Regions from separate parts of the Homo sapiens genome. Here region 1 is linked to region 2. Evidence: fine-mapped expression QTL. Tissue or cell type: NK cells. Region 2 holds a variant in brackets; the other region holds the start of a gene. All regions are shown on one strand. Distances are from middle to middle.

Region 1 (8,000 bases), 45 kb after region 2:
TGCAGAGGGGACAACGTAGAGCCAGGTTCGTGGGGTATATGGCAGGGGGCAGCAGCCCAGGTCACCCGGAGCCACCTTCCGCATGAAGTCTCAACAGAGAAGTCCTGCTTTTACACGGCCACCCTCCCTTCACACCCCTGCTGAGGGTGGTATGGGAACAAGCCAGCCTTAGGAGAGGGCCAGGGCTGGGGCCTGACCTCAGCCAGTGCCTTGCGGTCCTGTGTTCTCCGGCTACTAAGCAGTTTCACCACGTTCTTGGCGCCCTCAGCCACAGCTGCCTCAACGTGCAGTCGATGCTGTAGCTCCTCCGCCAGCAGCTCAGGCCCTGTGGGAAGGACGGCGGCTCTCAGGCCCTGCTCTTCCCTGCTCCGCCCTCCCTGTGTCTCAAGGCCTCACCTGGCTCCGGGGACCCACTGGCCTCCAGGCTGCTGATCTTCATCCGCAGCAGGGCCACCTTCAGCTGGCTGTCCCGCAGCATCTGCTGGGCAGCTGCCAGGAGCTTCCTCTCCTATGGAGCCATAGCACAGGCCCATCAGACCAGGCCTGGGCCACAGCTTCCCCCATCAGACCAGGAACTGGAGCCGGGTCTCCCCCATCAAAACAGGGTTAAAGTGAAACCTCTAGGCCAAACACTAAAGTCAAGCCTCCCTTGTTGGACTAGTTGGTGGGTCAGGGGAGCCTTTTCCATCTGACCAACAAGGGCTGGGGTCAAATTTCCTCTTTCATATCACGGCTGGGGTCATGCCTCTCCCATCAGATCAGGGCTGGGGCTAACTCTCCCCCATCAGATCAGGGCTGGGGCTAACTCTCCCCCATCAGATCAGGGCTGTGGTCATGCCTCCCCCATCAGAGCAGGGTTGATGCTTCCCCCATCAGATCAGGGCAGGGGCTAAGCTAAGCCTCCCCCATTAGATGAGGGCAGGGGCTAAGCTAAGCCTCTCCCATCAGATCAGGGCTGGGGATAAGCCTCCCCCATCAGATCAGGGCAGGGGCTAAGCTAAGCCTCCCCCATTAGATCAAGGCTAAGGTCCTGCCTCCGTCATCATATCAGGGCCACAGCCAAGTCTTCTTGTCAGACAAGGACTGAGGCCCAGTTCTGGACATCATGCTGGGAGTTGGGACTGGGGCTGGGCTAGGATCCCATTAGACCAGGGCAAGGCCTTCTCTGTCACACTAGAGACTACAGCCATGCCTTCCTCACCCAGCTGGGGTTTGGGGCTGTATTTTCCCCATCAGGCTGCAGGCTGGAATGGTGTCTCCTTATGAGCCCAATGGCTGAGGTGCATTTCCCTGTCAGACCAGGGGCCAGGGTGCTCCTGCCATCAGACTGTGGGGCCTTACCTTGGGGGTGCCACTGGCGCACGTGTGGGTCATGTTCTCAGCCCCCTGCTTCACCTTCAGCTCCACATGCAGCTGCCTCCGGAGAGCCTCTAGGTGCCGAGCCCTGAGCTGCTCTGCCCACGGCCGGGGTCCTGAGGCCACAGGCTCTGTGCACGGGGGTATCGAGCACAGGAGTCCCTCACCCAGAGCCGAGACCCCCACTGTGGCCTTTCCTCCTTCCCCTACTGATCTATAGGCAGGAAATGAGGTGGTCTCGCCACAGTGGCCAGGGCCAAGGCCAGGGGCCAGATGGGCCTAGAGCCTTCTGTCCTGAGGGGGTCTCAGCTCCTCACTCACCAGCTGGGCCAGGCCCAGGGCCGGGCAGCAGGATTCGGGCGTGCAGCTCCCGCAGCTCGCCATGCAGCTGCTCCAGGCGGCGGTTGGAGGACCGCAGCAGCTGCTGCACATGGCCCAAGTGGCGGCGGTCTGTGGCCACGCGCCGCAGGTTCTCCACCCCCTCCTTGATCTTCAGCTCTTTCTGGATGGCCCGGCGGATCACCTCCTTCTCATCCTCTGGGGGCCACTGGCTCGGCCCAGGCTGCAGAGCCGGTGGAAAGCAGAGGGTGGAGAACAGCCATGGGGTGCAGCGGCCACCAGCAGCCTTTGCTCACTGCAGATGGAGGCGAAGGAAGGGACGGCACCCAGGACTGACTCGCACAGGGTTTTGGAAGCCTCTCTCCCCTTAGAGCTCAGGCCTGAGCCAGATGGAAACTCCGAGGCCACTCATCTAGGCCAGGCTCCTGTCCTCCGCCCGTTAGAGAAGGATGTGGCGGGGGGGACAGTTCACACGGTAAATGGGTGCCAGGTTCTATTCTAAGTGCTTTGCATATATTACCACATCACTCCTCCCAGCCACCCCACCCGGTAGCGGTGGTCATTACCCCCATTTTCTTTTTTCTTTTTCTTTTTCTTTTTTTTTTTTTTGAGACAGTTTTGCTCTTGTTGCCCAGGCTGGAGTGCCATGGCACGATCTCGGTTCACCACAACCTCTGCCTCCCGGGTTCAAGCGATTCTCCTGCCCCAGCCTCCTGAGTAGCTGGGATTACAGGCACACGCCACTAAGCCCGGCTAATTTTGTATTTTTAGTAGGGACGGGGTTTCTCCATGTTCGTCAGGCTGGTCTTGAATCCTGACCTCAGGTGATCCACCTGCCTTGGCCTCCCAAAGTGCTGGGATTACAGGTGTGAGCCACCACGCCTGTACTATTACCCCTATTTTCTAGTGAGGAAACTGAGGCCCAGAGAGGTGAAGTAACTTGCCCACAGTCAAGACACAGAGGAGGGGCCACCATCTCTCGGGCCCCAGCTGTCCCTGGCAGCCCTGGGTAATCAGGCTGCTCTCTCTACATCTGGGACCCAAAGTAGAGTCCAGGAGCCACAAAAGCTACGCCGAATAGGGGTTCACACGAAGCCACATGAGAAGGCAGCCAGGGGCCTGGGAGCCAGGGCTTGTTCCCCTGATGTCCCAATGCCACAGGTAGCAAAGCAGAGGCACAGAGAGGAACTGGGGAGGTCTCCGGGTGCCCACTCCCTGCTCAGCTCCCGGGAGGAAGTAGAAGGCTCTCTCACGGCTTCACCCAGGTTGGAGCCAGGAACAGGAACACCTCCTTTCCAGCCGCCAGCATTTCAAACCAACCGGTGCCAAAGGTGACCTCAGGCCGGGTAACCCATGATGCCCCGCAACACGGGCTGTTGCAGGAACCCCATCTTACCTCTCTGTGTTCCATCTTCTCCTGAGCCCAGTGGAAGGGGCCGCAACCCCAGACTCAGGGACCCCCCCACCCCAGACCTCAGCGGGGCCTGCTGGCCCAGCTGTCAGAGGGCAAGGGCGAGGCTCAGGAAATCCTCTGACCGCCCTAGGCCACAGGGCCAGAGCCAAAGACCGGAGCAAACAAAGGTCCCATGGAGCTGGGGGCCCGGCCACCGGGGTCCTGAGTCACCCAGCTGCCGCTGCAGGGCGGAGCCCCGCAGGAAATCGGAAAATGTGTACAAGCTACGTCTGGAACAGGCGGAGGGACCTCCAGAGGAAGGGGGTGGGAGGGGGCAGACCGAGCCCCAGCCCTGAAGGCGGCCTAAACGACTGGCTTGGGCGCTCAAGGAGTCTACACGCACCCCGCAACACCCCCATGGTCCCGTCTGCCCTGGGTTGGAACTCCAACATGGACACACACACCACCTCCTTTCCGCTCTTTGCGGGGACCCACTCCTGTCCGCAAATGCCCCCCTCCCAACCACTCGCTCCGGAACAGGACACCACCTCTCCCTCCTCAGGAGCAGATAGACATGGCCTCGGTCCTCCGGGCCCACGCGCACCTACTGCCAGCTCTGGCAGGAAACCCAGCCCCCTCCGCATTCTAGAACCCGCTATGTACCCAAAGGTTCCCGCCCTGGGGCGGGGGAGGCCGCTCCCCTCTCATCTACGCTCCCCTCGTGCCTCCTGTGCTCCGGGAAGGACTCCTGCCACTGCCAAGCGCGCACAGACTGCGCCCCCCGCTGCGCGCACATTCTAACCCCCCCAGGCCCCTGTGCCCCGCCTTTCTATCCCGGCTAATTCCCGTCGGCCTTGGAGCCCCACCGAGGAGAACCGACTTAAGGACACTCTGGGGACCACCCTGGTGGCGCACACTGCGGACTCAGCCGTCCTCGCTCACGGGCTGGTTGGGGTTCAGTCTCCGGGTCAGCCGCGGACTGATTTGGAGACTGTGCAAGGTCCAGGAACCACCGAACCCGGAGATCAGGTCTGCTCTGCGAGGGCGTCGCGGGGCCGGGGCCAGGGCAGGGGCAGGGAAGGGGCGCGGGTGAGGGGAGGATCGGGGGAAGCGGCCGCGGTTCGGGGCTCCGGGGCGATGACAGAGGCTTTCTCGCACCCCCCGGGCCCGCGCGCCCCTCCCACGCCGTTCACCTGCCGCGGCGCCCCCTCCTCCATGGCGCCGCTCCGGCCGCTTGGGGCCCTTCTCTCAGCCACTCCGGTCCCGGAAGCCGCAGACCCTCCGCCAGGACTTTCAAACTTGAAACTTCCCGGGAAGCGGCGCCGGAGACGCGGGATCGGGCGCCCCCTCCCGAGACCCGCTGGCCCGCGGGACCAGCGCCGCCTCCCGTCCGCGCCGATCCAGCGCCCGGGACCCCACGCCCGAGGTCCCGCGCCCCAGCGCCTCCCTCGGATCCAAAATTCCGCGGGATTCTGGGCCCAGTACCCGGGCTTCGGCGCCTGCGGTTCCCGCTGGGCGTGACCGCGCCTCACCCCCGGTTTGGACGCTCAGGAGGCACATCGCCCGCGCCCAGGTCCTCTGGCCTTCCCCGCCGCGCGCCCGCGGGAGCCGGCCAGTTAGGGACAGGGATGGGGGAAACAGCGCCCCCTGAAGGTTGCCGGGTCGCCCAGCCGGGTGCAGCCGGTGGAGCTGGCCGCCTCCTCTAACTTTGAGCCCCTCTACAACCTGGCTCCCGCCTCTAACGCGCTGGGCCTCCTCGACCAAGCCCCTCAAGTCTCTCTTTGTCTCGCACGTTGTTGGTGTAATGTGGGCTAATCCAAAATTGTCTCTCTCCTCGGAGTGGTTGGCCCAGACTAGATATTAGTCACTACAAGAATGTATACTAGGCCAGGTGCGGTGGCTCACGCCTGTAATCCCAGCAGTTTGGGAGGCAGAGGTGGACGGATCACGAGGTCAGGAGTTCGAGACCAGCCTGGCCAACATGGTGAAACCCCCGTCTCTACTAAAAATACAAAAATTAGCCGGTCGTGGTGGCGGGCGCCTGTAATCCCAGCTACTCAGGAGGCTGAGGTGGGAGAATCACTTGTACCCAGTAGGCGGAGGTTGCAGTGAGCCGAGATCCTGCCACTGCCCTCCAACCTGGGTGACAGAGCGAGACTCCATCTCAAAAAAAAAAAAAAAAAAAAAAAAAGAACGTATACTTGTGGAAAAGTAAATCCTCACCCAAAATTATGATAAATTACAAATTACAGATGAATGAACCAGACCTCTCTCCGGCCCATCTCTTACTCAGACTGAGCTTGCTGGTTCAGCCCGTGCCACTTTTTAGGGCTTTACCCTAAAAAGCCCATCCATCCACACGGGAGAAAAGCCATTTACACCTGGTGAAATAGCCGCCACTATTTCAGCCCAAGGGAGGTGTGCTGGTCACTGCCTAGTCTATGGCGGGCCATTCAGCCCGTCCTGGCATCCTGCGTTTACAGGAGGTTGTGTCAGCACTTCGTGGAGGAGCGTCCTCCAGGAGGTGGGAAGGTGATGAAGGGTCAAATACCGACAGTGACTTGGAACAGACAGGCTCTGGTGCTCTTACTGAATGAAGGAAGCCACATGTTGTGCTTTGCACTAATCACTTCCTTCATAATGGACTGGAAAAAAGTGAAATTGGTGAGCCATGGACAACACTGGGTTGTCCTGCTATGGGAAATCACCCAAGTGGCATTGACATATAAGCAAAGGCAACTTGGCTCTGTGAAACATGCCCAGATTTCATAATCAGAGGCGAAATGTGACATTTACACATTAGAGTTGTTGAGGTCTAGACATTAGCAGAAGCACCTGGCACATAGTAGGTTCTTTGACATGGGGGTTGGCTGGGCATGGTGGCTCATGCCTGTAATCCCAGCACTTTGGGAGGCTGAGGAGGGCAGATCACTTAAGGTCAGGAGTTCAAGACCAGCCTGGCCAACATGGTGAAATCCCGTCTCTGCTAAAAAAAAATTAAAAAGGCAGCTGGGCGCGGTGGCTCACGCCTGTAATCCTAGCACTTTGGGAGGCCGAGGCAGGCGGATCACAAGGTCAGGAGTTCGAGACCAGCCTGGCCAACATGGTGAAACCCCGTCTCTACTAAAACTACAAAAAAAAAATATTAGCTGGGCATGGTGGTGGGTGCCTGTAATCCCAGCTACTAGGGAGGCTGAGGCTGGAGAATCACTTGAACCTGGGAAGTGGAGGTTGCAGTAAGCCAATCTCGCCACTACACTCCAGCCTAGATGACAAGAGCAAAACTGCATCTCAAAAAAATACATAAAATAAAAAATTAGAAAAACTAGCTGGGCGTGGTAGCGCACGCCTGTAGTCCCAGCTACTCGGGAGGCTGAGGCAGGCAAATCACCTGAATCTGGGAGGCAGAGGTTGCAGCGAGCTAAGATCACGCCACTACACTCCAGCCTGGGCAACAGAGCAAGATTCTGTCTCAAGAAAAATAAATAAATAAAAATAAAATAAAATGGAGGTTAAATGAACGTTATTATCCATCATTTAGAAGCAAAAAGGCTGACCAAGCCCAGTGGCTCATGCCTGTAATCCTAGAACTCTGGGAGGCTGATGAGGCAGGAGGATTGCTTGAGGCCTAAGAGTTCAAGACCAACCTGGCCAACATAGTGAGACACCATCTCTTAAAAAAGTAAAATAAAGAAGTAAAAAAGTCCTCAGCTTCTCACTGCAGCTCATCAAAAACCCAGGAATCAAACTAACAAGCCTTCCCCACCTTTTAGGAATTCTCCAGTGGTGCAATCAGTCCAGCCAGCTAATTAACACTTTAAAATGTGTATTTGCCTTGATGGCTAAATGTTACTTCTGGAAGCCAAGAGTAATCTGAGATAACTCTCCATAGGAGGGTGCTCACATCTCAACTCCCGGCTCATTTATCCACTCACTGCAGGCAGGAAGCTGAATTCGATGGTTTTCCAAGTTTGGTTGGAAAGTGGCTTTGTTTTTTGTTTTTTTGAGAGAGTCTTGCTCTGTCACCCAGGCTGGAGTGCAGTGGCTCAATTTTGGCTCACTGCAACCTCCACCTCCCGGGTCCAAGTGATTCTCATGCCTCAGCCTCCTGAGTAGCTGGGACTACAGGCACATGCCACCACACCTGGCTAATTTTTTTTTTTTTTTTTTTTTCTTTGAGACGGAGTCTCGCACTTTCGCCCAGGCTAGAGTGTAGTGGCTGATCTCGGCTCACTGCAAGCTCCGCCTCCAGGGTTCACGCCATTCTCCTGCCTCAGCCTCCCGAGTAGCTGGGACTACAGGCGCCCACCACCACGCCCGGCTAATTTTTGTATTTTTAGTAGAGACGGGGTTTCACTGTGTTAGCCAGGATGGTCTCGATCTTCTGACCTTGTGATCTGCTCGCCTCGGCCTCTCAAAGTGCTGGGATTACAGGCGGGAGCCACCGCGCTCGGCACACCTGGCTAATTTTTTATATTTTTAGTAGAGATGGGGTTTCACCATGTTGGCCAGGCCAGTCTCGAACTCCTGACCTCACGTGATGCACCTGCCTCAGCCTACCAAAGTGCTGGGATTACAGGTGTGGCTGCCGCGCCCGACCTGGGGAGTGTTTTTCACCACCTTACACAGGGAAGCCAAGTCCTGGACTGCTGGATGAGTCTGACCAGGTAGTTGCACCTTACTTCTGATAGTGATAACACTTCATAAGACTGGAATTCTTAGGAAATTCGTGTTCAGCATTTAGTGGACCGTGAATAGTGCAAACCAACTCTCTAGCCAGTTGGCCTTTAAAAGACTATAACTCACTGGGCGCGGCGGCTCGCCTGTAATCCCAACACTTTGAGAGGCCGAGGCGGGCGGATCACGTAAGGTCGGGAGTTCAAGACCAGCCTGACCAACATGGACAAAGCCC
Region 2 (8,217 bases):
GAAACCCCATTTCTACTAAAAATACAAAATTTAGCTGGACATGGTGGCAGACACCTGTAGTCCCAGCTACTTGGGAGGCTAAGGTATGAGAATTGAAGCCGGGAGGCGGAGCCTGCAGTGAGCTGAGATCGCGCCACTGCACTCCAGCCTAGGCAACAAAGTGGGACTTTGTCTCAAAAAAAAAAAAAAAGAAAGTATTTGCCAAGTACCCCTCTGCCAAGTGCTGTGCTGGGTGCTAGAGATAAAGAAACAAATCAGGTCCTGCCCTCTTGGAGGCTGTGTGAGCTGGTGGGGACAATCAAGTCATTACAAGGGCTATGGTAGGGGCAATCCAGGGCCCCGGTGTGGCCTGAGGATCAGGAAGGAAGGAGGAGGAGGGACGCATCCTGGCTGTCCTGAAAGCTCATTCTGCCTCTGCCAGAGGAAGCGTGTTCTAGCAGAGGGAACAGCACCTGCAAAGGCCAGTAGGTGAGAGCATGAGGAGCGACAGGGGAACTACCCAACACTCAGCCTGACCAGAGCACAGTGCCATGGGGGGAAGAGGCAAGGCTGGCAGTGTCTGCCACCTATGGAGTATTGCTGGACATAGGTCGGTTCTTGGATTGGTTGGTTGAGAAGTTTGACCAAACCCTACCAGCTGTAACTGGCCACCCATAAGCCCTGGCCCCAGCCTGCTTTAATGGTGTTCAGTTGAGCTTGTCCCTTTGTGATTGTTGGTGAGACCTAAAGGTGCCATGTCCTTACTAGAATGGCAGGTGGTTTCTAAAGGTGGCTGCATTGCCCATCCTATGTGTTCCCCTACTATGTGGCTTTGCCATGCTTCCATCAGGAGGTGGTGCTTATGTCCCCTACCATTAAAAACAAAAGGAGTAGGGGATGAGGTTGGAGGGCCTAGAAGAGAAAGCAAGGAAATGCCTCACCACCCCCAGTGGGGAGGCCCAGCTCAGGCCTGGGTCCCAAGCCACTGACACCGGCACCCTCTTTCCCCAGCATTGAGCCTTCCAAGAGCAGCATCATACCTTTCCGGGCTCTGAAGAGGCCGCTGCAGTTCCTCGGGCTCTTTGAGAACTCTCTGTGCCGCCTCACGCACATTCCAGCCTACAAAGTGAGCAGTGGAAGTGGGATGGGTCTGGGCCAGGGAGCCTTGGGAGAGAGAAGGAGCTGGATTCTGGGGCTGGAGACTGAGCTGGGATCTGGCATCCCAGCCCTTGGCCTCTGCTGGGTTGTTCTGAGCGTGTCCCACCCGCAGGTAAGTGGTGACAAAAACGAAGAGCAGGTGCTGAATGCCATCGAGGCCTACACGGAGCACCGGCCTGAGATCACCTCGCGGGCCATCAACTTGCTTTTTGACATCGCCCGCATCGAGCGTTGCAACCAGCTGCTGCGGGCCCTGAAGGTCAGCTCCAAGCCTGGGGCCTTGGCCTCCTGTCCCTCCCCACCTGGAGGTTGCCGGGCTTGGCTGAGCCGTGTCCCCAGAGCCTGTGTCCTTCTGCACCCTGTCCCCAGGGCCCCAGGACCCGAACCCCAGCCTGGGCCTCACAGCACTTGACTTGCTTCAGCACTGGCCTTGTTTGGTCCCCACCCTGGTGTCTGCTCCCCAGGCCCCACTTCTGCCTTTAGAGAGCAAGACCAGGCTAAACCTTGCCCCAGAGAGCCTGTTCCAGCCCCTTGCAGAGCCCAGGCCTCTCCCTGCACTTGCCAGCCCAGGTCCCCCTTGTCTTCATACAGCTGGTCATCACGGCCCTCAAGTGCCACAAATATGACAGGAACATTCAAGTGACAGGCAGCGCCGCTCTCTTCTACCTAACAAATTCCGAGTACCGCTCAGAGCAGAGTGTGAAGCTGCGCCGGCAGGTTATCCAGGTGGTGCTGAATGGCATGGAATCCTACCAGGAGGTGACGGTGAGCCCCCACCCGCCACGGCCCCGCATGCTCTGGCCCAGCCACCCCTTTCCTGCTTCTTGCGTCCCGCTAGGGCTCCCCCGGCTCTGGGCTGCATCTGTCCCAGCTCCCTTTCCCACAGCAGCACTCCCTGACTCTTGGGACCTGGCCCTTCCCACAGTCCATCACTCCTGGCTGCCCTCCATCCTCCTCCCTGCCCCATGTGGGGGTGGGGGCCCAGGGACCCTGCCCTTCTCCCTGCCTGTGCCGTCTCCTCAGCCCTTCTGCCCATACACTCTGCTGGGGGATTTCTTACCAACAGCTGCTTTTAATATAAAAGTAATAAAAGCCTTTATTATAGAAAAGTTATAATTACAGATATACAGAAAATAAAAATCACCCATAAACCCACTACCCAGAGACAGGCACCATTAACATGGGATATCAATTGTGAATTTTAGCCTATGCACACATATTTTGTAAATGGGATACACAAACTGCATACTGTTTGTATATGGTGGATTTTTACTTCAACTGTGTTGTCACATGAATATGAACATCTCCCTTATCCGCCAACAATTTTTTTCTTTTTTGAGATGGAGTTTCACTCTTATTGCCCAGGCTGGAGTGCAATGGCACAATCTCGGGTCACTGCAACTTCCACCTCCCGGGTTCAAGTGATTCTCCTGTCTCAGCCTCCCGAGTAGCTGGGATTACAGGCATGCGCCACCATGCCCGGCTAATTTTGTATTTTTAGTAAAGATGGGATTTTACCATATTGGTCAGGCTGGTCTCGAACTCCTGACCTCAGGTGATCCACCTGCCTCAGCCTCCCAAAGTGCTGGGATTACAGATGTGAGCCACTGCGCCTGGCCAGCCAACAAATTTTTTTTTCAGATGGAGTCTTGCTCTGTTGCCCAAGCTGGAGAGCAGTGGCGGGTTCAAGTGATTCTCCTGCCTCAGCCTCCCAAGTAGCTGGGACTACAGGTGCATGCCACCACACCTGCCTAATTTATGTATTTTTAGTAGAGACGGGGTTTTGCCATGTTGGTCAGTCTGGTGTTGAACTCCTGACCTCAGGTGATCCACCTGCCTCAGCCTCCCAAAGTGCTGGGATTACAAGCATGTGCCACCACACCCAGCCAACATATTTATATAACAAAAACTTTTTTTCATTTCAGATGGGCAATATGCCAACGTCCTAACATGGTTTGAGGGAGGCACATTTCACACATGAGCATGAAGACCTAATCATCACTCTTATAAACTACGAAAGGATCAAACAATAATTTTTATTTATTTATTTTTTCGAGATGGAGTCTTACTCTGTCGCCCAGGCTGGAGTGCAGTGCACAATCTTGGCTCACTGCAATCTCTGCCTCCTGAGTTCAAGTGATCCTCCTGCCTCAGCCCCCCTAGTGGCTGGGACTACAGGCACGTGCCACCATGCCAGGCTAATATTTGTATTTTTAGTAGAGACAGGGTTTCGCCATGTTGGCCAGGCTGGTCTCGAACTCCTGAGCTCAGGTGATCCACCTGCCTCGGCCTCCCAAAGTGCTGGGATTACAGGCGTGAGCCACCGTGCTCAGCCACAATATATATATATATATTTTAATTAAGACAGGGTCTCAGGCTGGGCGTGGTGGCTCACGCCTGTAATCCCAGCACTTTGGGAGGCTGAGGCAGGCAGATCATGAGGTCAGGAGTTTGAGACCAGCCTGGCCAACATGGCGAAACCCCATCTCTACTAAAAAATACAAAAATTAGCTGGCCACGGTGGCTCACACCTGTAATCCCAGCACTTTGGGAGGCTGAGGCAGGCGGATCACCTGAAGTCAGGAGTTCGAGACCAGCCTGGCCAACGTGGTGAAACCCTGTCTCTACTAAAAATACACAAATTAGCTGGGCATGGTGGCAGGCGCCTGTAGTCCCAGCTACCTGGGAGGCTGAGGCAGGAGAATTGCTGGAACCCAGGAGGTAGAGGTTGCAGTGAGCTGAGATCAAGCCACCGAACTCCAGCCTGGGTGACAGAGGGAGACTCTGTCACAAAGAAAAACAAAAACAAATACACAGGGTCTCACTTTGTTGCCAAGGCTGGAGTATAGCGGCATGATCACAGCTCACTGTGGCCTCCACCTCTCAGGCTCAAGCAAGCCTCCCAACTCAGCCTCCCCAGTAGCTGGGACAACAAGGCATGTACCACCACACCCAACTAATTTTTTTTTTTTTTTTTTTGAGACAGAGTCTCGCTCTGTCACCCAGGCTGGAGTTAAGTGGCACGATCTCGGCTCACTGCAAGCTCCACCTCCCAGGTTCACGCTATTCTGCCTCAGCCTCCCGAGTAGCTGGGACTACAGGCGCCCGCCACCCTGCCACGCTAAGTTTTTGTATTTTTAGTGGAGACGGGGTTTCACTGTGTTAGCCAGGATGGTCTCAATCTCCTGACCTCATGATCCGCCTGCGTCGGCCTCCCAAAGTGCTGGGATTATAGGCATGAGCCACCATGCCC[G/A]GCCCACAGTCAGCTAATTTGTATTTGTGTGTGTCTGTGTGTATGTGGTGACGGGGTCTCGCTGTGTTGCCCTTGCTATCCCCTAGCTCAAGTGATCCTCCTGCCTTGGTTTCCCAAAGTGCTGGGATTATAAGCATGAGCCATTGCACTAGGCCCAAAAATTGTTTAATAATGTTTCTTTTCTGATTACAAAAGATATCTAATGCTTAAGCCAGGTGTGGTGGCCCTCACCTGTAATCTCAGCACTTTGGAGGGCCGAGGAAGGCAGATCACTTAAGATCAGGAGTTCCAGACCAGCCTGGCCAACATGGTGAAACCCTATCTCTACTAAAACTACAAAAATTAGCCGGGCATACTGGCGGGTGCCTGTAGTCCCAGCTACTCCACTCCGGAGGCTAAGGCAGGAGAATTGCTTAAACTCGGGAGGTGGAGATTTCAGTGAGCTGAGATCGTGCCACTGCACTCCAGTCTGGGTGACGAAGCAAGACTCTGTGTCAAAACAAAACCAAAAACAAAAAAAAGATACCTAAATGCTTAAAAGATGAAAAAATTCAAGTGATACAAGAATGTATTAAATAGAGCGAAAGCCACTTACAATCTCACCTCTCCTCCTCTAGATGCAGCTGGTGTTAAGGCTCACTTTCATGACTGCTGACACCAGCATATGTTCAGTGTCCTCATCCAGGGAGAGGCCACTGTGTGGAGGACTCTGCTGGAGCTTGGAGGGAGTGGCCAAGGTCAAGGCTCTGCCCAGTGTGTGAAACAGCCCCCAGGGCCAAATAATTTAGGTTGCTGTTTCATCTTTTGCTCTCTCAAGCAATGCTTTGTTAATTATACTTAATTAGTTATCCTTATAATACATTTCTGTAAGTAGAGTTGTAGAATTTCAGGGGCAGTATGTGTGTGTGTATATTTTTTCTTTTCTTTTTTTTTGAGACAGAGTCTCTGTTGCTCAGGCTGGAGTGTAGTGGTGTGATCTCGGCTCACTACAACCTCTACCTCCCAGGTTCAAGCGATTCTCCTGCCTCAGTGTCCTGAGTAGCTGGGACTACAGGAGCATGCCACCACGCCTGGCTAATTTTTGTATTTTTAATAGAGACAAGATTTCACCATGTTGGCCAGGCTGGTCTGGAACTCCTCCTAGCCTCAAGTGACCTGCCCACCTGCCCCTTCTCTACAAAAAAATTTTTTTAGGCCGGCGCAGTGGCTCATGCCTATAATCCCAGCACTTTGGGAGGCCAAGGTGGGTGGATCACCTGAGGTCAGGAATTCAAGACCAGCCTGGCCAACATGGTGAAACCCGGTCTCTACTTAAAATACAAAAATTAGCTGAGTGTGCCGGTGGGCACCTGTAATCCCAGCTACTCAGGAGGCTGAGGCAGGAGAATCTCTTGAACCCAGGAGGCAGAGGTTGCAGTGAGCCGAGATGGTACCATTGCACTCCAACCTGGGTGACGAGAGTGAAACTCTGTCTCAAAAAAAAAAAATTTTTTTTTAATTAGCTGGGTGTGGTGCTATGCGTCTGTAGCCCCAGCTACTCGGAGGCCGAGGTGGGATGATTGCTTGAGCCTGGGAAGTGGAGGCTGCAGTCAGTGAACTAAGATTCTACCACTGCACTCTAGCCTGGGCAACAGAGGAGACCCTGTCTTAAAAAAAAAAAAAAAAAAAAGGAAAAGAAGAGAGAAAAAGAAGACTAGTTGGAGACTCCCAAATGAATTAATAAATCTGTCACAGAAATGGAAATCAAAATAAGAGGAAGTCACATTTCATCTCAAGAGCTTGGTGATACCCAGTGTTGCAAAGATAGGGAAGAGCACCCTCACACCCTGTCTACTGGTAAGGGATGAATCGTGCAACCTTTGTGAAGGGCAACCAGCAGAACCTGCCAAAATTCTAAATGCATCTATCTTTTGACCTAGCCATTCTGCAATTAGAACTGTTCTTAGAGGAAAAAGATATATCCTCACTTGTAAAATTTTTTTGAAAAAGGCCGGGCACAGTGGCTCATGCCTGTAATCCTCACACTTTGGGAGGCTGAGGCAGATGGATCACTTGAGGCAAGGAGTTCTGGACCATCCTGGCCAACATGGCGAAACTCCATCTCTACCAAAAATACAAAAATTAGCCGGGCGTGGTGGTGTGTGCCTGTAATCCCAGCTACTAGGGAGGCTGAGGCAGGAGGATTGCTTGAACCCAGAAGGTAGAGGTTGCAGTGAACCAAGATGGTGCCAGTGCACTCCAGCCTGGGTGACAAAGTGAGACTCTGTCTCAAAAAATAAATAAATAAAATAAAATTTAAACTGAAAAAAAGGCGGGGTGTGATGGCACATACCCAGAAATCCCAGCCACCTTGGAAGCTGAGGTGTGAAAAATTTCTTGAGCCCAGGAGTTCGAGGCTGCAGTGAGCTATGATGGCACCACTGTACTCCAGGCTGGGCAACAGAGAGACCGCGTCTTAAAAATAAATAAAAGGCCAGGCAAGGTGGCTCACACCTATAATCCCAGCACTTTGGGAGGCTGAGGCGGGTGGATCATCTGAGGTCAGGAGTTCAAGACCAGCCTGGCCAACATGGTGAAACCCTGTCTCTACTAAAATACAAAAATTAGCCAGGCATGATGGTGGGTGCCTGTAATCCCAGCTACTTGGGAGGCTGAGACGGGAGAATCGCTTGCACTGGAAGGTGGTTGCAGCGAGCCAGGATCATGCCACTGCACTCCAGCCTGGGTGATAAGAGTAAATGAGACTCCATCTCAAAAAAAAAATTTTTTTTTAATTGGCCAGATGTGGTGATGTGCGCCTGTAGTCCCAGCTACTCAGGAGGCTGAAGTAGGAGGATTGCTTCAGCCCAGGATTTTGAGGCTGCAATGAGCTATGGTCCAGCCTGGGCAACAGAATCAGACACTGTCTCAAAAAAAAAAAAAAAAAAACCCAAACAAATCAATAAGCAAATAAACCTGCAGACAGTACAAAGAAAACTGAGGATGTAGAGCAACTGGAGAGCTCCTACACTGCTGGTAGGAGTGTAAACTGCTAAAGCCACTGCGGAAAACAGTCTAGTGTTACCTAAAAAGGTTGAAGACATGTACATCTTGTGACCCAGAAGTCATACCAGGCATGTGTGCCCTAAAGAAACCCATGCTTATGGTCACCAGGATGCAGGTATAATACATGGCTCACAGTAGCCAACTCTTAGAGTCACCCAGACATCCATCAGCAGTAGAATGGATGAAAAAATTGGGGTGTCATGATGGAATACTATACTGTAATGAAAAATGAATGCATTTCAGCTACGTATAACAACAGTTAATCTTGCAAACCTATAGAATATCTCTATAAAAAGCGGGGGCCAGCCAGGCATGGTGGCTCATGCCTGTAATCCCAGCACTTTGGGAGGCTGAGGCAGGTGGATCACCTGAGGTCAGGAGTTCCAGACCAGCCTGGCCAACATGACGAAACCCTGTCTCTACTAAAAATACAAAAATTAGCCAGGCATGGTGGCTGGAGCCTGTAATCGCAGCTACTTGGGAGGCTGAGGCAGAAGAATCACTTGAACCTGGGAGGCAGAGGTTGCAGTGAGCTGAGATCACGCCATTGCATTCCAGCCTTGGCAACAAGAGTGAAACTCCATCCAAAAAAAAAAAAAGGCCCTGCACGGTGGCTCACATCTGTAATCCCAGCACTTTGGGAGGCTGAGGCTGGTGGATCATGAGATCAAGACCATCTTGGCCAACATGGTAAAACCCTGTCTCTACTAAAAATACAAAAAAATTAGCTGGGCATGGTAGCACGCACCTATAATCCCAGCTACTTGGGAGGCTGAGGCAGG

What was found. PIP is the estimated chance that this variant, and not a neighbour inherited with it, causes the effect.
Region 1: it holds the start of PKN3, and the variant in region 2 is fine-mapped to the expression of PKN3 in NK cells (Schmiedel 2018, PIP 0.95).

Annotation. Positions count from the first base shown.
Region 1 is chr9:128,699,221-128,707,220 of GRCh38, reverse strand. PKN3 (protein kinase N3) reads right to left here and starts at 4,718. Exons shown (of 22, transcript NM_013355.5): 1 at 4,282-4,718; 2 at 1,678-1,918; 3 at 1,342-1,487; 4 at 397-508; 5 at 198-325. The coding sequence starts at 4,305. RefSeq lists an enhancer at 3,902-4,441 and a silencer at 4,256-4,825.
Region 2 is chr9:128,744,301-128,752,517 of GRCh38, reverse strand. ZER1 (zyg-11 related cell cycle regulator) reads left to right here. Exons shown (of 16, transcript NM_006336.4): 6 at 991-1,105; 7 at 1,250-1,396; 8 at 1,729-1,902. It overlaps LOC124902340 (small nucleolar RNA U13), which reads right to left and starts at 3,160; the gene lies at 3,057-3,160. The variant G/A (reference allele first, on the strand shown) is at 4,391.